3 linked regions of the Homo sapiens genome follow. The protein of the gene in region 3 interacts with the protein of the main gene of each other region in a pairwise test. Each region holds a gene or a part of one and is shown on either strand. Other genes may lie near its edges. The genes, in order: MAGEB4, TTC19 and FAM136A.

Region 1 (8,134 bases), on a different chromosome or scaffold from region 3:
ACATCTGTCAATTATTTTGGTATTCTTCTTGCTCTGGTTATGTATTCCAATCCAGTGTTTGGGGTACAGAGACCTCTTCTTTCTTACCTGAGACACACTTTGGGGTTGTAGAAGAAAATGAATTAAGCAATTCACAGTAAGCTTCAGTTTGGGAGGAGTGGAACAGTGTGGGCTCTAGAGGAATTCAGACCAGCAGTCTAGTTCCAGCCCTATCACTTACTAGCTGTGTGAACTTGGGCACATTAATAAACTCTATGAGCCTCAGGCTCTACATCTGTGAAATGAGCTTGATAAGCCTTGTCTTGTAGGACTGGTGGAATGTGGTGAAAGTGTGCAAAGCCCTGGTGTGCATTGAGACTTTAAACAATACTTGTTATTACTAAGATTATTTCAACTACAGAAGAAATCATCCACCCTGCTGATTTTCTTTAAGTCCAAGAGATAACAAAGAATATACAGCATTCTAAGACATGGAACAATAAAATCAGCCCAAAACGCAGCTTACAAAGAAACTCTAAATAACTTTTCCATATTAAATCATATTTTGAGTGTGGAGTTGTCTTTCTCAGCTGAAAGCAACTCAAACCTTCTAGGCTTTGGTTCAAGGACCAACTCTGACCTTTCATCCAAACCAGTCTTATTTTCATTCATTTTACCACCATCAAAAATCTAGATCTCCCTTAGAATTTGCAAAAACACATGAAAGGAAAAAAAATTCCTTTTAATGGAATGGGTTCTGGCTCCCCAGCTGATAGCAGAGTATTAGCCCAGTGGCTTATGAGTTTCCAGTCTTAAAGGAGTATCACCTTTATTTCTCAGAAACACCCTGGGGACTACGCTCATAAAACACCTAGTTTGTGTACTGGATTCACTTCACTTGCACTGGGACAAGAGCACCGGCCACTTTCAATCCCTGCTCCAGGCAAAGATCCCCTCTGGTTTTTCCACAATCCCAAAGTAACTGTTAAAGGCAATTTTTCATTCCAGTCTCCATCTCTCAAGTGTGAGATCCACCATCTGAGTGTGTGACCCCTGCTCAGTGCGCCCCATATAGGCACTATGCCAGGACATAAAATTACCTCCTATTGCAGTATGTTCAGTTTCCCGAAGTCTCAGTTACCTTGCTTAGGACATTTACACTAGATTCCACTGCTGGTAATACCCCCACCTTCTTTTTTATCCCCTTTTCACCTGTCTTTAGGTCTTAAGGAGTATCTCATTACCTTCGTTATATGATAGCTGCTGTTGGATTCTAAAATTCTGTGGGCAGGGATTGGGGTTTTTTTGTTGTTTGTTTGTTTTTTGTTTTCTTAGCTTATCCGGTACTAGCCAGGAGCCCTCCAAAGTACAGCTGCTCAATTAATATTTGGACAATTGAAGTGTAAGTGACCAGGAAGTCAAATGTATTGCTATTTAATTTCCCCCACATTCCTGAAAAAGCTAAGCAGATCCGGGTACATATACTTCAGTTTTACAAAGAAAGACTAAAAAGAATAAAACAAAGCAAGAATTGACCACATTTTACTTTTTTTTTCTCTACTTCCTGGTCCCACCAACTTTATTGCAAGGTAATTTCCTTTTCACAAATTCCATATTCCAATGCCATATTATCTTGTTCTAGATCACAGAAAAAGACTTAAAAGATTTTTAAATTGTTTTACATAATGCAAAAATTCTCACTCTCCAACCTGATATATTTTAATAAATGAGTGATTCATGCCATTCATAAACTTAGATTCTGAAACTAAATAAATCTACAATTTAAAAAAAGAACACTGAAAAACAGGAAAAAGAAAAGATAAATCATTTTACATACAAATATGTTATACATGGTGTTCCCACCAACTCCCCTTTGGCTCTCCATTAATTAGAAGGTTAAGTGTTTTCTTAATCAAAAGTAAAGAATATACCTCAGACTTCACAAGGAGTGGGAGACACTGCTGGACACCACACTGAAACATGCCAGGCCCAGTTGCAACACTGTCTCTGGCTCTCTCTCCCTCATCTCTTAAAGTCTTCTCTTAATGGAGGGAAGACAATGGAGACACTGTCATTGACCTTGGCCCAGGCCTCCACATTCTTGAATAATCTAAGCAAACCAGGTATGTAACTTTTAAATTTATGAGCAAAAAAAGACTGAACTGAGTAAGACAAACCACGAATAAAGCAACTTTTACTTTTCTTCCCTTTCTATCTTCAGATTCTACCTATTTTACTGTGGAGTTATTTTAAATTTCTAAGGATAACCTTACTCCCATGCCGTGTTATTTTGCTCTGTATCACAAAAATTATTTCAGGATTTTCTATTTGTATTTCAAAAACAAAATTATTATCACTAAACCAACCTGATAAACAGCAATAAATGTGTGATGCATGCCATTTCTAAATTTATATTCTGAATCTAAATAAACTTTCTATTTTAAGAAACATCATGGAAAATACAACAAAGAGATAAATCAATGAGTTATTCATGCATCACAGGAACAGAGAAAGCAGCAGGTCTTTCAACCACAAAGTGAACAATTTGCCTTAGATCTCACATGGGTTGGGAAGAGCTACTGGATGTGGCCCTGGAATACGCACTAGTCATGGCTGTAGTGCCACGCCTGGCTGCAACTCTGGGCCGGGCTCCAGCTCTCTCTTCTTCATCTCTCAAAGCCTCTTCATAAAGCAGTGGGAAGTTATTGGGGGTGGTGTCATTCACCTTGGCCAAAAACTCCAGGACTTTCATCTTGCTGGTTTCTGCATGAGCTCTTGGACCCCACAGGAATTGATAGCGTGGGGGATCACTGTTGGGCACCTGCTGGTATTCCAGATATTTTTCCTGTACCAGATCTTGGGTGATGAGCTTTCGGGGTTCCCCAAAGATAAGGTGCCTCTTTCCATCATAGATCCCCAGCATATTCAGGAATTCCCAGATTTCCTCTTCACGGGCACAGTTGCCATTTAAGAAGATCACACTCAGTAGAGGCATCAGAAGCCCATTCCTTGGAAGGGTCCAGGCACTGCTCTGGTTTCCATCGTTGGGGCCTAGCATGCTGACGAGGATGTAGGAGTGAGTGGTGGGGTTGACCTCCTTCAAGGCAAGGCCAAAGACCAGCTCCGTGCGCTGAGAGACTTTCCTGAAGATCTCAGGGAAGTGCTCCTTGTACTTTTTGCTGATGATCTTCAGCATTTCTGCCTTTGTAGTGGGCTCTTTCATTTTATACTTGTACAGCAGGAACTGCACTAACATCTTCGTCTTCCTGGTTAGAGAATCTTTGAGTGATCTCTCAGTGGATGTTGAGGCCTGGGAGGAACTTGCATTTTCCTCATCTTGGCTCTCGTCGCCTTTATCAGATCCAGTGCATGACATAGCTGCAGCAGCAGAGGTGGTGGGTGGCTCTCTCTGAGGCTCCTGGGGAATGCCAAAAGCAAGGGAGCTGGAGGCAGTATCCCTCAAAACAGATGAGGAAGAGGAAGGAGACTCTTCTTTCTCTGCTGCAGTAGGCTGACCAACCTTGAGATCCTGGGTCTGACCACGGGTCCGCTGGCGTTTCTCACGGGCACGGAGCTTACTCTTCTGACCCCGAGGCATGATGGCTGTGGTTAGGCACAGCAGGCAGGAGTGTAGGCAGAAGGGCAGGTGATGTGGTTCCTGGAGAAGAGCAAATGAAATCCTGAGAACACCTTCAGCAGGCAGATACTACCTTGGCTTTTCAGAAGCCGCCTCTGCAGGATTCCTTGAGAACACTGCTCTAAGTATTCACTGGGCTATTGTTCTTAGTCATTCTGTCCCCTGAGAAGCCAGCTGAGGAAGTTACAATGTGCCTTAGGCTGCAGCTTGCCAACCCTGCCTGGGGCTGACTGGGTGACAACAAGGCTCGCAGTGGGGCTTTCTGTGTTCTGGCTTGGAGAGGATCCACTCTGATTACCTTTAGAATTGTCATGTCAGCTCTTGGCAGGGCCTGAGCCTCCCTCTATTGGTGTTGTGAAATTGACTCTTTAGTTTTCTGGGACCCAGATGAGGGAAGTCTAGGGGCCCCTCAACCCACCACCCCTGCCTAGAAGCATTTAGTGCTCTCTCTGTCCTGGGCTCTTTAGGTCCCAAGTTTGCACTCAGGATCCTCATCTGGACTCCAAGCAGGGTTGTGGACTGTCTCTTCTGCTGACTGATAACTGCAACTTCAGACCAAGAATTTCATCTTTTCTAGTTCTGGTATAAAATGTGATGGGCATCTATGAAAGAAAATAATTGATAATCTGGACTTCGCTAAATTAAAACTTCTGCTCTGCTAAAGATACCACAAAGAGAATAAGATAACTCCCAGGTTGGGAAAAAATTATTTTCAAAAGACATATCTGATAAGGGACTGTTAACCAAAACATACAAAAATGTCTTAAAACTGAACAATAAGAACTGACCAACCCTATTAAAAATGGACAAAAGATCTAAACAGGCACCTCAACAAATAATATATATGGAAGGCAAATACGTACATGAAATGATGGTCAACATCACATATCATTAGAGACTTGCAAATTAAAACAATAATGTGATACCACTACATACCTATAAGAATGGTCAAAATCAAAAACCCTGATAACCCCAAATACTGATGAGGATGTGGAGCAACAGGAGCACACTGTCATTGCTGATGGACATGAAAAATGATACAGCCACTTTTGAAGACAGTTTGTAAGTTTCTTACAAAGCTATGCATACTTTCATCATATGATCTAGCAAGTGCGCTCCTTGTTATTTAGCCAGATGAGTTGAAAACGGTATGTCCACAAAAAAAACCTGCACACAAATGTTTATAGTAGCTTTATTCATAATTGCCCAAACTGGGAAGCAAGCAATATGTCCTTCAGAAGGAGAGTGGATAAATTAACAGAATAAAATATTATTCAGCACTAAAAGGGAATGAACTATCAAGCCACAAAGAGACATGGATGAAACTTAGATACATATTACAAAGTGAAAGAAGCCAATTTGAAAAGTCTATACATTGCATAATTCCATCTATATGACATTCTGGAAAAGGCAAAAGTATGGAAACAGTACAAAGTTCAGTGGTTTCCAAAGGTTGGGGAGAGTGAGAGATAAATAGATCAGGCACAGAGAACTTTTAAGGCAGTAAAACAATTCTGGATGATTCTATGGTGGTAAACATATGTCATTATACATTTTTAAATATTAAAACCACAGAATGTGCAGCAACAGGAATGAATCCTAAACTACGGACATTGGGTGATAATGATGTGTCCATGTATTCTCAATTGTAACAAATGTATCACCCTGGCTTGGGAGGTTGATATGAAGGAGGCTGTGTCTGTGGGAGGACAGGATGCCTGTGAGACTCTCCTTTCTGCTCAGTTTTGCTGTGAACGTAAAACTATTCTAAAAAAGAAGGTCAATTATTAAAAAAAAAAAGTGATGGTGAGTCCTCAGCCTTACATGTTGCCCTGGCAATTTAAGAGTTATGCAGGGGGGTGGACTCTGTTGCTCTCTCTATTCAGAGGTGAGCAGTCCCCTCAGTTCTCACTCGGTTTCCTTGATTTGGCTCCTAGCAGATCCTAGGGCTCCCCTCTTTTTTGACCTGAAGACCTCTCCATTTAAAAGGCCTGCACCTCCCTGAGATCAGATAGGAGGAAGAGGGTGGCCTTATCTGGCCACAGCTGACCATGGTCTCCCAAGAGTGGCAGCTGTGGTAGACAGGTTGAGGTCTTATGGTGGATTGTCCTACTCAGGTCCTAACTCAGGATCCTAAATCTCACTCACAGGAAGGCTTAATATTCCTCCCTTTGCTGAGCTGGGATTGCCCACCTCAGAACAAGACCTTCACTTCTCTGTTACTACTGAGGATATGAGGGTGCCTCTTTCTGACATTCATGCCTAAATCTCTCAGAGGTGACAATAGGGAGGATTCTGTGGGATCCCCACTGATAGGGGTTTGGTGGTTCCTGCACTCTTCAGGGTACTCACTTTACTCCTGGCACACATTAGGAATCCTTCCTCTATGGACCTGAGTCAGCCAGCCTCAGATCATGGTCTTTACCTTCTTAAGACCTCCGGAGTAGAAATCAGGTTCAGCCACATCCTGTTAAGGCTATTTGGGTGAGTGCTTCCCTCATTCTTCATTCAGGGTCCTCAACTTGGTATGTGTCAGAGAATGGCACTCCTCCCTCTACTGACCCGAGATGCAGGAACTCACAAGTCCCTGAGAACCTTGAAGAATAAGTGAGGAGATGCTCAGGCTAAGAACTCTGTCTGGCATGTTGTTCTGCTGAGTCCTCCTATATGAAGGTCTTTATCTTGGCTCTTGTCCCTTAGTTAATGACTTCCTGGGAAATGCCGCATCCCTAAAAATTCTTGATCAGTTTCCCTATAATAAATCTTGCAGACAATGCATCCCTGTCCCAGGAGTGATATAAGATAGGGAAGCTGTAACACAAGGCAGAAGCCCGAGGATAGAAGTCATACTGTCAGAGAAAAAAAAAAAAAAAAAAAAAACATTGATCTATTTCTTCTCTTTACTACCCTCTTATGTATTTCTCTTGGAAAAGATTTAACTTCCTATAAAAAGGGGGACAGTCCAGAATGACAGAATGTGACCCCATGATCTTTTGAGTTTATCTGACTTTGCATGTGTAATCTTATTGTCACCAAATATTATCTTTCTCTCCTTAATTCACACCTCTTGACCATTTTGGTAATTTCCTTGCTCTGGTTCTGTATTTCAGTCCAGCAGATTGGGTACAGAATCTTTTCATCACTTGATATACGTTTGGGAGTAGTGAGAAGAAAAGTGAATAAGGGGACACAGTCAGTCTCAGGTTGGGAGGCATGGAACAGAGTGTGCTTTACACTAATTCAGACTGGGGGTCTTGTCCCAGTCCTGTCACTTACCAGCCATGTGAAATTGGACATATTAATAGACTGTGGGCTTCAGGCTTTTTATCTGTGAAGTGGGTTTGATAAGCTCTGTTTTGTAGGACTGGTAAAATGTATACAATGTATGTAAAGTGCTTGAGATGTATTGAGACATATAATAGTGCCAGTTCTTATTATGATTAATTTGTACCCTGACGTTGCAATCTACTACACTGGGACTTATTTTTCAATGCAGGAGATGTCAGAGATTATACCATATTCTAAGACAAAGAAAGCCCTATCAGACAAAGTGCTACCTAGAAAGGAAAACTAAATAATATTTCCTCATTACTTGATAGATCATTCAATATTAGTATGAGGTAGACTTCCTCAGTAGATGCAACACAGATTCTAAAATGAGTTTCAAGGACCAAAAACTTCCCTCTCTCTCAGCTATCCTTCCATCTAAACCACTTTTATTTTGATTCATTTAACCACCTCTCAAAATCTAGACCTTGCCTAGAGTTTGCCAAATCACAAATGAGGTAACCTAATTGAATGCGCTTTTAATGGAACAGGCTCTGGATCCCCCAGCCCAGGGCAAAGAGTACCAGCACAGTGGCTTCTGGGCCTCCCCCGTCCCTTGAGGGTATTACCCTTATTTCTCAGAAACTGGCTGGAGATGATGTGCACAAAACACCTAGTGTGTGCTGTGTTTATTTGTACTGGGACAAGAGCACAGGACACATTCCTACCCCAGATTCTCCCTGATTTATCCATGATCCCAAAGTAACTGTTAAGAACTGTTTCCTATTCCAAGCTTTGTCTCGCACCTCTGAGAGGCAACTTCTTTTTTTTTTTCTTTTGAGACGGAATCCCGCTCTTTAGCCCAGGCCGGACTGCAGTGGCACAATCTCGGCTCACTGCAAGCTCTGCCTCCCAGGTTCACGCCATTCTCCTGCCTCAGCCTCCCGAGTAGCTGGGACTACAGGCGCCCGCCACTGCGTGAGAGGCAACTTCTAAGAGCCTGGCCCCTGCTCGCCATTCCCACAGCCTCATCCAGCCCACCATGGAGCCTCACTTAGATTAACTCCCATTGAGGGACCTGCACTTTCCTTAGGCCCAACACCGCCTTGATTAGATAATTCATACTTGACTGTTCTCATGTGGAACCACCTCCCTCCCTTCTTATCATGTATCCTTTTGGTCTTAGAGTGTATATCACCATTTTCCTTAGATGATAGCTGCTTCTCGACCTTATAATTTTAAGGTCAGTTG
Region 2 (7,576 bases), on a different chromosome or scaffold from region 3:
ATAGTGAATCCTGTTTGCTTCATGGACTGAGTATAGTAGCGTATCTTTTTCTGTGACTAGAAGTTATTTATGAAAGAGAATCATTTATGTTTGAAGAAGTAAATATGCCTCAGTTTCAAATGGTCCTTTAAGGGCTCTGTATAAACGATTCCAATATATTTCTCAGTTGTTATTAAAGTACTTGATTTTTTTCTTGTCTAACTTTTAGCAATTTTTATATTAATATTTCAAAGAACCATGTTTAAGTAAATTACTAGCAAAGGAACTCTTTGGGGGAACTTTATGAAATTTTCTCTTGGCAGTTGCTAAAAGTTTTCTTACGTTTTCTAAAAGTTCAGTAATAGTACATTTATCTTTAGAAAAGTTTGCTTTTCAGAAAGTGTTTCCATTTTTCTTGTGGTCAGAATGTGCTGTGAATTTTAAATGTATTTTTAAGATATTATAGCTAAATTGTACCTCACTGTTTTCTCTAAAAAGTTTTACTGCTTTTGCTTCCACTCCACTATTCAGTGATAACAAGGGTAACAAGTTTCCACTAGAATTGCTTGTCACTTTATTCTTGTACTTTTGTTTTACTACTGAACATCTTTTTAAATCGTTGCCACAAAATATCTCGCTTTTATCATTTTCACATTGCTCTAGTATATCAACTTTGGAAACAAGACATCATTCTATTTATAGCATTCTGTTTTTAGTAGTGGTATTTCCATTTACAAAATACAGTAATTCTTGATCGCTGAAGACGTCAAATCCTAGAAAACATAGCATGCCTACGCGTGATGTTAACATCATTCTCGAATAGTTGTTGGTTGAAGATTCATTTGATGAATCCGATTTTTCAGAAATAGACGAGTCTGATGATACAGACGATTCTGGTGTTAGTTCTCTGTAGAAATAACTCCAAGAACACTTTTAATAGTTTATTTTCACATTGAAAATCAGATTTGCTCCAGCCTCAAAGAGTATATTTATGTAAAATTAGGTAAGCGATATAGAAGCAAGCTGCACTTTTTTTCTAAATGGGAAGGTATTAAAAAAGAAAAGTCTCATTTTAGTAACATAGTCTTCCTTAAACTCTATGCCACTTGTAAGATTTCTGAAAACTGAAGACATAGAAGGGAACGGGCTTGATATGAACGACAGCTTTGCTGGTAAATAAACCCAACTGAACCTAAGATTATCTAAGGTAACCTCTTTTTCTAGTCTTTTATTGTGTGAACAGTTACCTCCTGCTGAGTTGTTGGCAGAATTTCCATATAATCTTGCTTATGACCATTTCTACATTATTTGTATCATCTTTTAGAAGTCTTACCCAGGTTGATATAGGTTACCGTTCTCTAGATCTGTGTCTCCAATTCTTCTTACATGGCATTAGGTATTTTAAGCTTGTTTTTTTTCAGACATCGTATAGTCAATTCTTGAATGTGTTGAGAGGTGCTATGTCATTGTAAGCTTTATTCTTCTTCTCTGAATGATTAGCTTGTTTAAATTTTACCTTAAATTCTTTTTTTTCTTTTTTTTTCTTTTGAGACTGAGTCTTGCTCTGTCGCCCAGGCTGGAGTGCAGTGGTGTGATCTCGGCTCACTGCAAGCTCCACCTCCTGGGTTCACGCCATTCCCCTGCCTCAGCCTCCTGAGTAGCTGGGACTACAGGTACCCGCCACCACGCCTGGCTAATTTTTTTTTTTTTTTTGTATTTTTAGTAGAGACGGGGTTTCACCATGTTAGCCAGGATGGTCTCAATCTCCTGACCTTGTGATCCACCCGCCTCGGCCTCCCAAAGTGCTGTGATTACAGGTGTGAGCCACCGCGCCCGGCCTTTACGTTGAATTCTTTAAATTCAGCTTGTGACTTTGCACTTCAGGATTCTGAGTGTTCTCTGTCTTCTTCCTGCATTGTTTTTCTTATACCATACAGGTTTTTCATTGGCCTTGACTTTTTGTTGTTAACTCATTCTTCTTTGGGTTTATTTTCATTTGTTTCTGCTGAATATTATTTGTTTCAAACTAAAAATAACATTCCACATTTTAATTGATGTGCGGACTCTTAATCTACTTAAAATGTGGGCTGAAGTTCCATGATTCCAGCTAGTCTGGAATAGGTCATTTAACTGGATGTTAATTCACCTACATTGTTCCCTAAGTGACATGTGGGTCCCATTCTGCTGACATATTTGTGGGTCCTGGTAACAACCATTTGGGTAGATTTGCTGATTCCTCTTTTCTCCTTAGTGGAAGAGAAAGCCAATACCCACCTCCTCTTGGGCATGTGCTTAGACGCCTGTGCTCGCTACCTTCTGTTCTCCAAGCAGCCGTCACAGGCACAAAGGATGTATGAAAAAGCTCTGCAGATTTCTGAAGAAATACAAGGAGAAAGACACCCACAGGTAAGGGAGGAAAACACAGAAGGGGGAATATAAAACAAAGGCTTCAAAATTGAAGGGTGTGAAATGTCACACTCATTGGTAACAGGATCAGCAGATGGTCCTAGATCCTCCTTGGTCCCCAGTCTACTCATTTTCTTATCACCAGCACCCTCACCCCAACTACTTGTTTCAGAAAGGATTTGAGACTAGTTATCAGTTACTAGGTCTGCCCAGAACTTTTTGCATGATCCATGGTTTGCACAACAGAGCAACCTTTCTACAGAGCAGGACTGGTCAGGCTTCAATGGACACAGCACAGTATTTCAGAGTGGGGTCTCTAGATACCCCTATTAGAAGCTTATGAGGAACGGTTTAATACACAAATATCCTTGCCTCCCTTGCCCCACAGTTAAAATGGCAAGAGGTGAGGGAAGGGCAAGGGACCACATTAAAAACACTTAAACCATTGGCATATTATAGAATTTAAGTATAACGTGTAAAGCTCTGTGTTAGAACATTAAACACATTGAATTGAAATCATCTCTTTGGGTCTCCCCTCCATCCGAGTAAGTTCTTAGATGTAAGGAGTGCATTGCTTTGTCTATGAATGCTTGCTACTGCCAATATAAGACATAACAATTTTAACTGAATGTGTCCCAAGGCTGGGGTACATGGGTAGGGTGAGTAATATGTTTTGGAAGAAAAGGGAGGTTGAGCTATGAATTATCTCCATGAAAGGGATTTATAACTTATTATGAAGAGTCCCTTAATGGAGTGAGGAATAATAAACAAGCAAGTACAGAATTCAGATCTCCAAGTACTAGAGTCAGGGGGCTTAAAGCATGGCATCAGTGGGGAAGTAGGTATGGAAGTCTACCTCTTCCATACTGAAATTCCATTTCAGTAGCCAAATTAAAAAAACTCCTACTGGGCATCTTCCTAAAATAGATGGTGTATTTCTTGTTTTTGATGAGCCTCAGGGTTATCAGCAGGAACAACATAATACAGTGGGGCTCCAGAGGCAATCAAACCATAGGAGGCTGGCTTCTCAAAGTTGCTCAGCCTTAAAGGAGATAATATGTGTAGCTTCTTGCTGTTGTTTTTCATTTGGTGCTTCTAACTGGGTAATTAGTTGGATTAATAAGCACTGTCTGTTACCTAATTTCCAGATTTGTATTATTTCCCAAAAGGTCGAACTAACATTGTCCACTGTACAATGTGATTATGATTAACAAATGCCCACAAATTTGTTAAAGAATGGTATCCCTCATCTTTTGTGGAATGCTAGGAAAGATGAAATCTTATGTATTCAGAGTTGGATGCACTCCACATTAAAGTTCTGTGAAGGCATGTTTTTAAAGAAAAAATTGTTTTTTCTTTTACATACAGACCATTGTGCTGATGAGTGACCTGGCTACTACCCTGGATGCACAGGGCCGCTTTGATGAGGCCTATATTTATATGCAAAGGGCATCAGATCTGGCAAGACAGATAAATCATCCTGAGCTACACATGGTACTCAGTAATCTAGCTGCAGTTTTGATGCACAGAGGTAGGTAGCAATGTAAACTTAACTGACTTGCTTTAAGGGAGGGATGTCACTGGATTGATAGATTTGTGAAGTGGTATGTAGGGAGGGCAAGGGCCAACGAATAAACATGTAAATTAAAAGACTGGTTGAATGGCAGAAAAAGGAGGTATTGATTAGGTTGAAGTACTATTGTGTTCAATTCACGTAACTTCTACAGACCTGCACTAGCCTGTCGAACCCCATCAAGCTGGAGAAAACCTTGCAATGATAGTACCTTACGTCAGTAGTGCTTTACAGATTTCTAAATGTGTTCAGTTACAATGTGTTTCTCACAGTGTGCTGGTGAAGCTTTATGACAGGAAGTATCATTTTGTCAGACATTTCTTAGTGTCAGCACACTATACCGATCATTTTCAGAAACCTGGGATGACAGGTGTATTACACATACCACCATTCATGAAATCTTGGGCTCATCAAAGTCCTCAGGATATACTGGAAAGGGCCGTTAGGAATCCCACAGCATTCAGTGGAGTTCCAGCCTGTCAGATGGGGATGAAATGAGGCAGCACCAGCTTGTCGCTTCATAAGCACACAGTAAATTAGCCCTATATCTGCATTCATGCTCTCTCTTCAGAATCACCTTGAAAACATACACTTTCTTCTTACTGTCCCTTCTCTCTGGGTTATTTTAGAACGATATACACAAGCAAAAGAGATCTACCAGGAAGCACTGAAGCAAGCAAAGCTGAAAAAAGATGAAATTTCTGTACAACACATCAGGGAAGAGTTGGCTGAGCTGTCAAAGAAAAGTAGACCTTTGACAAATTCTGTCAAGCTCTAAATCCATTTTTGTGTAGGGAGAATAATGTCTAGTAATGTGGAAGAATAGCTATCATTCCTGTCTCTGTGGCACCCGATCAATGGCTTAAATCTGTCGTTTTTGATATTCAGGTTTCCTCAATTTAGCCTTAGTGAAGGAGGGGTTGTACACACTGCCATTTTTGTATTTTAAAGGAAAAATGACTTTCATTCCCAACTGATTATGACCTTTCAGGATGTCGTCAAGTGATGCTTTCAGTTGTAACACGTGACTTGGTGCTGTCCCTGCTGGTCTAAGTAGAACTGTAGATTCATATGGGCTGGTGTTCCTGTGCGCTGTGGGTGTGGTGATTCAGCCTGGCATTTCTACCATAAGTTTTTGGTCTGCTGATTTGCTGCCCTGTCTTCTCTTACTTTACTTTATCAATACCTGGCAAACTGACCAGAATTACCTTCCTCATGGCAAAGGGGGATTATGGTGAATTGTTGTTCTTATAGTCTGTTTCATGAAGCACAAGTGGAATTTAATACATAAAAGAGAAAAATATCTTAGTTTGCTACCAGCATCCAGCATGAAGTTGTAAAGTGGGGATTAGGCACGTGACAGTATAGCACCCATTTGAATTTAAATAAAAGTGAACCATATTTATCTGGTTATATAAAACTAAAAATGGGGGTGTTTATATAAAACTAAAAACTAAGAATGATGTAACCTTTTGTCTGTGTTATCTGAACACTCTACTTCCTTTGCAGCCTTAGTCACACAACTGAGTCATCTCAAGTACTCTTTAAGGACACACAGCCCAGGCTGTTCTGAGTCAGAATAGGCCCCTACAGGTATATTTTAAAACTCTTCGTAATTCTAATGTGTACTGCTGGTATAGCTGAACTACTGACCTGGATCTTAGTCCTAGCCTTTTTGCTTTTGCAATTTCAGTATCTTCATCTCTAAACTAGGGAAACACTGGGATTCTTTCTTAGCTGTGGGGGAAGGTATTTGGTTAGATGACTTTGAATGAATAGACTGCTGTGCTGAAAGAGCTTTATCACACTGTCTCAAAGTATGTAAAGATACATAGGTGGATGCTCTTACTGCAGCAGTCATGAATACATTTTTAGCCATTTACCTAAGGAAAAAGACAGTTTTTCTAGGTACCATGAAGGAAGATTGACCCTGTTGGTATGCCTGTGGGGGTGGGATGTGAGTGGGACTGATAAACTGATACTTTTGGTTCGTATGTACATACTGGAAGAATCTTCATAATAAATGAGACTACACAACAATATTGTATGTATCCCAGTAATCTTTGCATTTCTCAAAAAAAAAAAAAAAAAAAAAAAAAAAACTTTCTGAAGAAAATAAAAACACCAGAAACCTTGAGGTCCAAATCCTCAGGGATTAGACTAAAACTAGAGTTTTGTATGTTGCAGATGTAAATTTCTTCCTATTTTCTGTCTAATCTCATATTATTTACCATGCAGCTAATGCCGTTTACCAAGTCTAGCTCAGAGAGATAAGATACAATATAAATCAGACTGTTTCAGTAGAAACCAGTATTAACGTATGGTGATTTCTTAAAAAAATTAATGTCAACCACTCACCTTTTGCATTGAGAATGTTTTTACCTTTTCACAACTGCAGGGGTTACTGAAAGGTTTTTCATTCCAAGTTTTATTTATTTATTAATTTTAAATCATCCACAGTGACTCAGCTCATGGTCTCGTTGTTGGAAACACTAGGAGTTTTCAGGACAGTCTCTTCATGTGGGTGTTTTCATTACAGTTCATTTACACTGTTGTAAAATAAGGTACTGAAGCAAAAGGAGGACTGATCTCCTTTACTGATTGGTCTAAATTCAAAAGTGAATTGGTTAAAATCGTGTCATTAAAATTTTTTAACTGTCCAATGGTCACTGGAGTTTTCTGGGCATAAATATTTTTAAAATAGAATCACTCAGTGTACCAAAATTAAAAGCATTATGAAATTTGCAGTCATAAACATGCAGTGGAAAACTGGCTGTCAGAATACTTTTATGAAGAGTATTAGGAAGACCTTAATTTAGTTCTGGGTGCTAAAAAAATCACGTGTAAGGATATAGTGTCAGAACACTGAAATCTAAGTCTACAAAGAATATCATGTTTTGGTTTGCAGTGAACCACAGTAAGTTGTCAGTGCTGCTCTGTGCTTACCACTTAAATCATGATAAGGTGAACCTCCATAGGTAAACCATGTGAGAATTCTGTCCTTTCATTTATTTTGAACCAAGAACTATTATTGGATTTTAACTCTCATTCTGAGATTTCTTCTCCAGGTGATGGTAAATAAAGTAATACGCACATGCATTATGATGAGGATGGAGGGAGTGGTTCACAGCACCTCACCTTCGGGTCCTCAGGTAGAACTGCAAGAGTAAGAAGTTAGGCTCTGATCTGACATGTTCTCAGAAACTATACGGTTGACCTTCAAATAATGCAGGAGTTAGGGGCATAGACCCCCTAAGTAGTCAAAAATCCACATCTAACTTTGACTCCTCCAAAACTTAACTACTCATGGCCTACTGCTGACCAGAAGTCTTACGGATAACATAGTCGATTGACACATATTTTGTATATGTATTATATACTGTATTCTTACAATAAAGTAAGCTAGAGAAGAGAAAATGTTTGTTAAGATTATAAGGAAGAGAAAATATATTTACTATTCATTAAGTGGAAGTGGATCATCATGAAGGTCTTCATCCTTGTCATCTTCATGTTGAATAGGCTGAGGATGAGAAGGGGTTGGTCTTGCTATCTTGGGTGGCAGAGGTGGAAGAAAATCCATGTATAAGTGGACCCACACAGTTCAAACCCGTGTTGTTC
Region 3 (8,983 bases):
CACATATAACTGACAAAGAGCCATTACAAGACTATATAAATATATTCGACAGGCCGGGCTCAGTGGTGCAAGCCTGTAATCCCAGCACTTTGGGAGGCCGAGGCGGGTGGATCACAAGGTCAGGAGTTCAAGACCAGCCTGGCCAACATGGTGAAACCCAGTCTCTACTAAAAATACAAAAAATTAGCCAGGCAGGTGGTGCGTGCCTGTGATCCCAGCTACTCGGGAGGCTGGGGCAGAGAGTTGCTTGAACCCGGGAGGTGGAGGTTGCAGTGAGCCAAGATCTCGCCACTGCACTCCAGACTGGGCAACAGAGCGAGACTCTATCTCAAAAAAATTTAATTTAATTTAATTTAATTTAATTTAAAAAAAAAATATATATATATATATATATATATACACAGTCAACAAGCCAGCAAGTAAATGACCACTCCATAAGAAGATTTTTTTTTTTTTTGAGATGGAATTTTGCTCTGTCACCCAGGCTGGAGTGCAGTGGAGCAATCTCAGCTCACTGCAACCTCTGCCTCCCAGGTTTAAGCGATTCTCCTGCCTCAGCCTCCTGAGTAGTTGGGATTACAGTCCCATGCCACCGTGCCTGGCTAATTTTTGTATTTTTAGTAGAGACGGGGTTACACCATGTTGGTCAGGCCAGTCTCAAAATCCTGGCTTCAAGTGATCCATCTGCCTCGGCCTCCCAGAGTTCTGGGATTATAGGCATGAGCCACCACCTAGCCACAATAGGAAGATTTAAACAGGATCAACTGTAGTAGGCCAGGCAATAATAATAATAATAGTGGCTTTAGGGTGATAACAGTAAGCTAGAGAGATGTGAATAGATTCAAGAGATATTTACATAATTGGATATTTATAATCATAAAACATTTGCTTTATTTTATATTTAATAATATACATATATAAAATAATTATTCAACCAAAGTTTTGAATATATATGTATTTTTTTGGCAGAGAGCTCTGAAGCAATTGTGTGGGGGGGTGTGTGTGTGTGTACATATATATATATTTTTTTTTTTTTTTTAACCTGAGACAAGGTCTCTATCGCACAGGCTGGAGTGCAGTGGCGTGATCTCGGTTCACTGCAATCTCTGCCTCTCGGGTTCAAGTGATTCTCATGTCTCAGCCTCCTGAGTACCTGGTATTACAGGCATTCGCCACCACGCCCAGCTAATTTTTGTATTCTTAGTAGAGGCGGGGTTTCGCCATGTTGGCCAGGCTGGTCTCGAACTCCTGGCCTCAAGTGATCCACCCGCCTTGGCCTCCCAAAGTGCTGGGAATACAGGCGTGAGTCATCATGCCCGGCCAGCAATTGAATATATTTTTAAAAAGTACTTGTGACTTCCAAAAAGTTGACTGAATTCTTCATTCTGCAGAAGACAGTGTTCTTTGCTTGTGAGTTTTCTTTTCCCCAGCAAGGCATCATAATCGACCAAGGAGTGTCATGACTAGAGAGTGATAACACTTCAATCTCATTCTTGTTGGCATTAATTTAAAAACAAGTGATAACATGAGAATTGCTTTCTAAATTATCAGTTTGATTGATAAAGTTTCATCTGGAAGTCTTTAACCAAGGTTGGCCATAGCTGGGTTTCTGGCTACCACCCATTGCTAACCTGAGGGTTAGAAAAGGTAGCAGCATCTAGCAAAATTCACTTCCTCCCCTCATCCCGGGCCTCCTGGCCCCCATTTATCTCACCCACATCCTGAACATGAGAAAATAGGAAAGAGCCCTAGTCCCTCTTGTGCCACCATTTGTCTCTGGCACTGCGGGGCCTGCGTTCACAGGATGGCATGCAGGAGAGGTGGGAAAGGAATCAAGATGACAGAACTGACTACCCAGGATCCTGAAAGAGCTGTGACTTGTTTCCAGTGAGTCAGCCCAGGCTTGAGCCAGATAATCCTGAAACCTCATTTCCCACCCTCAAAGCACCAGGGTAATAGCACAGACAGGTATCTGAGCTTCCTAACATGAGATTAAACTCTGCTTCCACCATGACTCCCATGGGATTTCCACAGCCAACTAACTGGAAGTCAGGAATCATTTTTCTTTTTTTTTTTTCTGGGTTTTTTTTTTTCTGTTTTTTTGTTTTTTTGTTTTTTTTTTTTGAGGGAGAGTCTCGCTCTGTCACCCATGCTGGAGTGCAGTGGCACCATCTCAGCTCACTGCAACCTCCACCTCCTGAGTGCAAGTGATTCTCCCACCTCAGCCTCTGAGTAGCTGTGATTGCAGGTGTGTGCCGCTATGCCCAGCTAATGTTTTTATATTTTTAGTAGAGATGGGGGTTTCACCACGTTGGCCAGGCTGGTCTCAAGCTCCCAGCCCCAAGTGATCTGCCCGCCTCGGCCTCCCAATGTGCTGGAATTACAGATGTGAGCCACCGCCCCAGCCAAGAATCATTTTTCGTAAATACTAAAAGTACCATTCAATTTGTGTATAGAAACTAACAAGGCTGCATTACTCAAGGACTTTTAAACTCATTTTAGCATGATTAACTTGGCTCCTACAAGTAGGAGCTGTTGGAGAGGTTCTGTCTGGCATTTTAGGAATAAGAGGGAGAAGTGAGTAGTTTCAGATTGTGCTATAAAGAAGAAAGAAAGAACTTTCTGTGGAATATGGGACATAAGTATAAACATTAAGTCAGTCACAATAGAGATTTCCTACTTTTTCTAGTCTGGAGTTAGCCCATCAGGATTGGAATTCCAGCTCCACCAGTTTATAAATGTGCAATCTCTGGCAAGTGGTTTCATCTCCCTAGGCCTCAGTTTTCTGCCCTGAGTGAGAGAAGAGAGGAGAGTAAAGTACCCACCTCATAGGGTGCTTTGTCATGGAAATTAAATGAGATCATCCCGTGGAAGGCACTTAAAACACTGTCTGGCACATTATTTAATAGTTGGTGTCGCCCTGATTCCAGCTGCTGCTGGGAGCCACTTGTAGTCGAGCTTGAAGTGAACAGGCTGTCTCAAGACCCTGAACTGTGATTTATGGGGAGATACTCACACTTGTACTCACTAGAGAGGGCCTGGCGCTGGAAGAACACAGCTTGTTTGGTTGCTTGCTTGCTTGCTTGCTTGCTTGCTTGCTTGCTTTTATTTTTTATTTTATTTTTTTTGAGACAGAGTCTCACTTTGTTGCCCAAGCTGGAGTGCAGTGACGTGATCTCAGCTCGCTGCAACCTCTACCTCCCGGATTCAAGCGATTCTCCTGTCTCAGCCTCCCAAAGTAGCCAAGACTACAAGTGCCTGCCACCACGCCCGGCTAATTTTTGTGCTTTTAGTAGAGATGGGGTTTCACCATGTTGGCCAGGCTGGTCTCAAACTCCTGAACTCCTGACCTCAGGTGATCCACCTGCCTCAGCTCCCCAAAGTGCTGGGATTACAGGCGTGAGCCACCGTGCCCAATCAAAACATAGCTTTCTTCAAAGAAGCTTGGGTTGAGTCAAACTCCCCACTGCCCTAAACTAGAGTTCTCCTGCCATCTAGCGCCCAATGGCAGAAAATCGTTAAATTCTAATGACGGCCCCATTCCTTTGTTCCTCCCCCACCCCCACCTTGCACCCCCATGCCTGACATGGCTTTCTCTTCAGCCCCATATGCCAAGCAAACACCCACTCATTTCAATTCAATTCAAAGCCTCAATTCAAGCCTTATCTCCTCTAAGAAAACTTTCCTGAGGAACCCGGATGGCTCACTCCCTCCTTGCCAGCCTGGACCACCTCCTCCAGCACACCTCTTCCAACACTGCCCCTTCCCCTTCTCCACGGAGTGTGTTTCCCTTCTCCACTGACACTCCCCTCTGGACCCGCACCCCTAGCTAATGTATTCGATAAATGAATGCACACGACAGTACTGTTATGGGTGGGACAGTGAGGCATTCCAAAAAAAAAACTGCTCCAGGAATTCAGAAACAGTTTCATGTTGCTGGCATGTAAGTGCTTCATTGATGACTGCTTCATTGATGATCTGTAGCCCCTGCTTTGTCTCTGAAGTTCATTTTTTATGAGAAATAAATGCATAAACATACATCTACCCTGTGATCCAACAATCCCATTTCTAGATATTTACCCAAAAGAAAAGAAAATCTGTGTCTACAAAAGACTTGGTCCAGGACTGGGTGGTGGTGCATACCCGTAATCCCTTTGATAGGCAGAGGCAGGAGGATAGCTTGAGGCCTGGAGTTTGAGACCAGCCTGGACAACATAGCAAGATCCCATCTCCAAAAGAAAAAAAAAATGGTCAAGGATGTTCATAGTCACCACTTTATTCATAATAGCTACTAAGTGGAAAAGACCCAAACACCCATCAGCAGGGGAATGGATCAACAAATGTGGGCCGGGACCGATGCCTCATGCCTGCAATCTCAGCACTTTGGGAGGCCGAGGTGTGTGGATCCCTTGAGCTCAGGAGTTGGAGACCAGCTTGGCTAACATGGTGAAACCCCGTGTCTACAAAAAAAAAAAAAAAATTAGCCAGACGTGGTGGCACATGCCTGTAATCCCAGCTACTCGGGAGGCTGAGGCATGAGAATCACTTGAACCAGGGAGGTGGAGGCTGCATGAGCCGAGACCACATCACTGCACTCCAGCCTGGGTGACAGAGTAAGACCCTGTCTCAAAAAACAACAACGACAAATGTGGTATGTCCATTCAATAGAATACTACTCAGCAGCAAAAAAGAACCAACAACACAGCTCAATCTCGAAAGCATTAGGCTAAGTATTTTTCAGCAATATGCTAAAAAAGCCAGACAGAAAAGGAGTACTTATTGGATAATAACATACATATGACATTCTAGAAAGAGAAAATGTAATCTACAGTGACAGAAGCAGACCAGTTAGGGCAGGGGTGGGGAGATGGGGTAGAAAGGACGGAGATTGGGACAAGACAGAGTTTGGGTTTTTATTGTTGTTTAGAGACAGAGTCTCACTCTGTCGTCCAGGCTGGAGTGCAATGGCGTGATTTCGGCTCACTGCAACCTCTCCCTCCCGGGTTCAAGCAATTCTCCTGCCTCAGCCTCCCAAATAGCTGGGACTACAGGCATGTGCCACCACACCCGGCTAATTTTTGTATTTTTAGTAGGGACGGGGTTTCGCCAGGTTGGCCAGGCTGGTCTCAAATTCCTGAGCTCAGGTCATCCACCTGCCCACGGCCTCCCAAAGTGCTGGGATTACAGGCGTAAGCCACTGCGCCCGGCGGACAGGGTTTGTTAAAACTCATCAAGCAGCACGCCTAAGATCTGGGCATTTATCTGTATGTAAATTACATTAAATAATTTTAAAGAATGTAAAGGGAGGGACATGGGAGGGAGGAGGAAAGGCAGGCAGCAGCCGCAGGGCAGGTGTCCCAGTGACCGGTTCCCAAGCGGGAGGAGGGCGGTGGGCTCGCGGACACCAGCATGCAGTGGCTCCGTTCGGCCGCCAGGGGGGGGCGTGGGCCCTGGAAGGGCAGGCGGCGAAGGGCGGCGAAGGGCGGTGAGGGGGCGGGCCCGTACGCCGATTCCATATGGGCGCCGGCGCGGAGCGCCGCGGGGCAGCGCGGGGTCGCCATGGCTGAGCTGCAGCAGCTCCGGGTGCAGGAGGCGGTGGAGTCCATGGTGAAGAGTCTGGAAAGAGAGAACATCCGGAAGATGCAGGTAGCGGGGCTGGGGCCGAACCAGGACCCCCTTCTCAGCGGGTGGGTTCCGGGCCCTTCCCTCAGCCACCACGCGACGCCTTGCACTGCAGCCGCGTCCCCGCAGACCGGGTGTGGGCGGCCCTGGGGTCGCCGGGGCGGCCTCGGACAGGACTTCGGAAGCTTTGGCGGATCGGATGAAATCCGTGTGCCCTTGCCGTGCGCGAGGCTGTTTTCCGCCCCTTCCAGCCCGGGGCAGGAGCGTCCTCGGCGGCAGGTGGGAAGCCCCTGGTGGCAGGCGCTCGCCCCACCACCTTCCCCTCTTACGCGGCCCCTTCCGCAGGTGAGCGGCCCGAGGCCCAGCAGAGGCGCTGCCAACGTGAAAGACCAGAAAGGCGAGGACTTCCGGCCTCCCCGTTGGCCAGGTCATGCCTGCTTCTCTTGCGCCCAACCTCGCTTCACACAGCGCGGGTTTCTACACTGTTCTTCTCTGAGCCCCGCAATGCCTCTGTGTGTTTCGGTCCTGCTTCTCTCACGGAGTATGCGTTTCCCAGATAGTGCCCCTTGAGTCATTGATTAGTGGGTCGGCTGCCCTCTGGTGGAATTTGTATTGCTAGGTTGCTGACCTCTGAACCCCATGGAAGAGGCTCCTGGTTTTCAGAATTTGGCTTCGTCAGACCACCCTACCCTCACCCACTCGGGCGAACCTCTGTTCACCCAACCATCGGTGCAACAGGTGCCGATGAGCTAGCAGCAAGGACACCATGAAACACTACACTAGACATTGAGGATAATTTTCCCCAGTGGTGGTTTTAAGGTCCTGGTGTCTATTCTCAGGGAAGGTGAAAGCAGAAGGTGGAGAGAGAGGTGCAAATATCCACGTGGCCTTCTAACTCCTGTAGTGCTCCATAGTCATCTCTGTCCCCAGAGACTTTCCTACCTAACCTCTCTGCCCTTTCTCCCCAGGGTCTCATGTTCCGGTGCAGCGCCAGCTGTTGTGAGGACAGCCAGGCCTCCATGAAGCAGGTGCACCAGTGCATCGAGCGCTGCCATGTGCCTCTGGCTCAAGCCCAGGCTTTGGTCACCAGTGAGCTGGAGAAGTTCCAGGTGAGAAATATCCTAGACAGAGCACTGTAGTCCTTGATACAGACTTTTGCAGGAGATGACAAGCATTTGTTCAAAACTCTTGGCTTTAGTGTCTTGGTTCTGTTAACAGTTGTGATACTGATGGCCAACCAGTTTTCACAGGGTTTGAAATTTTGGAAAAAGTCTTGGCGGTCGAGTGCCTTAAGTTGAACATCATTTCCTATAGAAATGATGTAGGCCGAGCGCGGAGGCTCATGCCTGTAATCCCAGCACTTTAGGAGGCTGAGGCAGGTGGATCATGAGAGCAGGAGATCAAGACCATCCTGGCCAACATGGTGAAACCCCGTCTCTACTAAAATACAAAAAATTAGCCAGGCGTGGTGGCACGCACCTGTAGTCCCAGATACTAGGGAGGCTGAGGCAGGGGAATCTCTTGAACCCAGGAGGTGTAGTTGCAGTGAGCCAAGATCGCGCCACTGCACTTCAGCCTGGCAACAGAGCGAGACTCTGTCTCAAAAAAAAAGAAATGATGTAATGGGGAGTTACCAGGGGAGTTCATGACCAAGAGCCCTTATGCAGTTTGTTGGGGAGGAGGCGTTTGTTTGTTCCTTTTGACATAACCACCAAATACAGAATGTATACTGTGTAGTATAAAGTTTCCTGGCTGGACGCGTAGCTCGCGCCTGTAATCCCAACATTTTGGGAGGCCGAGGCGGGTGGATCACGAGGTCAGGAGTTTGAGACCGTCCTGGCCAACATGGTGAAACCCCATCTCTACTAAAAATACAGAAATTATCTGGGCATGGTGGCAGGTGCCTGTAATCCCAGCTACTCGGGAGGCTGAGGCAGGAGAATCGCTTGAAACTGGAAGGCGCAGGTTGCAGTGAGCCAAGATCGCATGCCATTGCGCTCCAGCCTGGACAACAAGAGCGAAACTCCGTCTCAAAAAAAAATAAATAATGTTCAGGCACGGTGGCTCACACCTGTAATCCCAGCACTTTGGGAGGCCGAGGCAGGCAGATCACGAGGTCAGGAGATCCAGACCATCCTGGCTAACACAGTGAAACCCCGTCTCTACTAAAAATACAAAAAATTGGCCAGGTGTGGTGGTGGGCGCCTGTAGTCCCAGCTACTCGGGAAGCTGAGGCAGGAGAATGGCGTGAATCCGGGAGGCAGAGCTTGCAGTGAGCCAAGATCACGTCACTGCACTCCAGCCTGGGTGACAGAGCGAGACTCCGTCTCAAAAAATAAATAAAATAAAAATAAAAAAATAAAGTTTCCTAAAACATATATTATTTTTAAAACAGCAGAATCTCTAGAAAGGTAGGATAGCCTTGAAAAGGTACAGATTCGAGGAACACCCTTCCACCATTTTGTGGACTTATACACCCACCCAGGACTGCCCCTAGTTGCTATACCCAGAGGGCAGCCCCTCTGTCACTAAGGAGCAGTCATTTATGTGAATCATTATTACTGTTGACTCACTGATTCCTGGCTCACAAGCCCCTCTGAGGTTACCAAAAGAGCTCCCTGTTTCCCTCTCTGGAGCAAAGAGTATCCACAACTTCATTTTACTCCCATCTTCTAAGTATATTTTTCTGGAACCTGGGGGAAGCAAGCCTACTTCCAAGCCAGCCTTTCATAGCCTGAGGTTCCATCCACATGGAAACTTATACATAATGTGACACATCTTTACATTCTTCCATTCAAAACGCTTCAAAGTTACTGCCATTATGAAGGAATAACTTCTTCAAGATCATGGAACCCCAAAGGGTTTCTTTGTGTTCTTTTTGACAGCTAATTTTATAGATGGGGTCTTTGAAAATGTGATTCTTGGATTGCTCTATAACTTCCCTTGCATTATCTTTTTAGTCCTCTCCAAGTGGACTTTCACTCTTCACTGGGCCAGAACCACTCCTGCCACTCACCCCCATGGGGCCGAATCCGGGGGTCATTTCTCAGTCTTCATCTTACTCTGTCTGCATCATTGACACAGTGGATCCCTCTCCTTCTTAAAGCACTTTATTCAGTTGGTCACCAGGACATCTCACTCTCCTGGTTTTCTGCCTCCTTCCTTGGCCTCCTTTGCTCTCTCTTCCCCACTCCAGCCTCTGAGCATCAGAGTGCCTGGGGCTGTCCTTGTTTCTTTTCTCCTTTCTGCCTACTTCTCTAGTCTCCTCTAGCCTCATAGCTGTAAATATAATCTCTATGCTGACAGCTCCTGCATTTATATCTGTAGGCCAGAGCTCACTGATAAACTCCACATTCACATA

What was found.
Region 1: the proteins of FAM136A (region 3) and MAGEB4 interact in binary tests that used the Homo sapiens proteins (3 or more experiments, as listed by UniProt).
Region 2: the proteins of FAM136A (region 3) and TTC19 interact in binary tests that used the Homo sapiens proteins (3 or more experiments, as listed by UniProt).

Annotation. Positions count from the first base shown.
Region 1 is NC_000023.11:30,237,579-30,245,712, reverse strand, and holds MAGEB4 (melanoma-associated antigen B4), read right to left. Parts: upstream 3,714-8,134; 5' UTR 3,578-3,713; coding exon 2,537-3,577; 3' UTR 1,526-2,536; downstream 1-1,525.
Region 2 is NC_000017.11:16,022,787-16,030,362, forward strand, and holds the end of TTC19 (tetratricopeptide repeat protein 19, mitochondrial isoform 1 precursor), read left to right. Parts: intron 1-2,230; coding exon 2,231-2,385; intron 2,386-3,753; coding exon 3,754-3,916; intron 3,917-4,587; coding exon 4,588-4,736; 3' UTR 4,737-6,618; downstream 6,619-7,576. UniProt on the Homo sapiens protein: Required for the preservation of the structural and functional integrity of mitochondrial respiratory complex III by allowing the physiological turnover of the Rieske protein UQCRFS1.
Region 3 is NC_000002.12:70,298,588-70,307,570, reverse strand, and holds the start of FAM136A (protein FAM136A), read left to right. Parts: upstream 1-5,503; 5' UTR 5,504-5,559; coding exon 5,560-5,967; exon of another isoform or gene 5,968-6,590; coding exon 6,591-6,731; intron 6,732-8,983.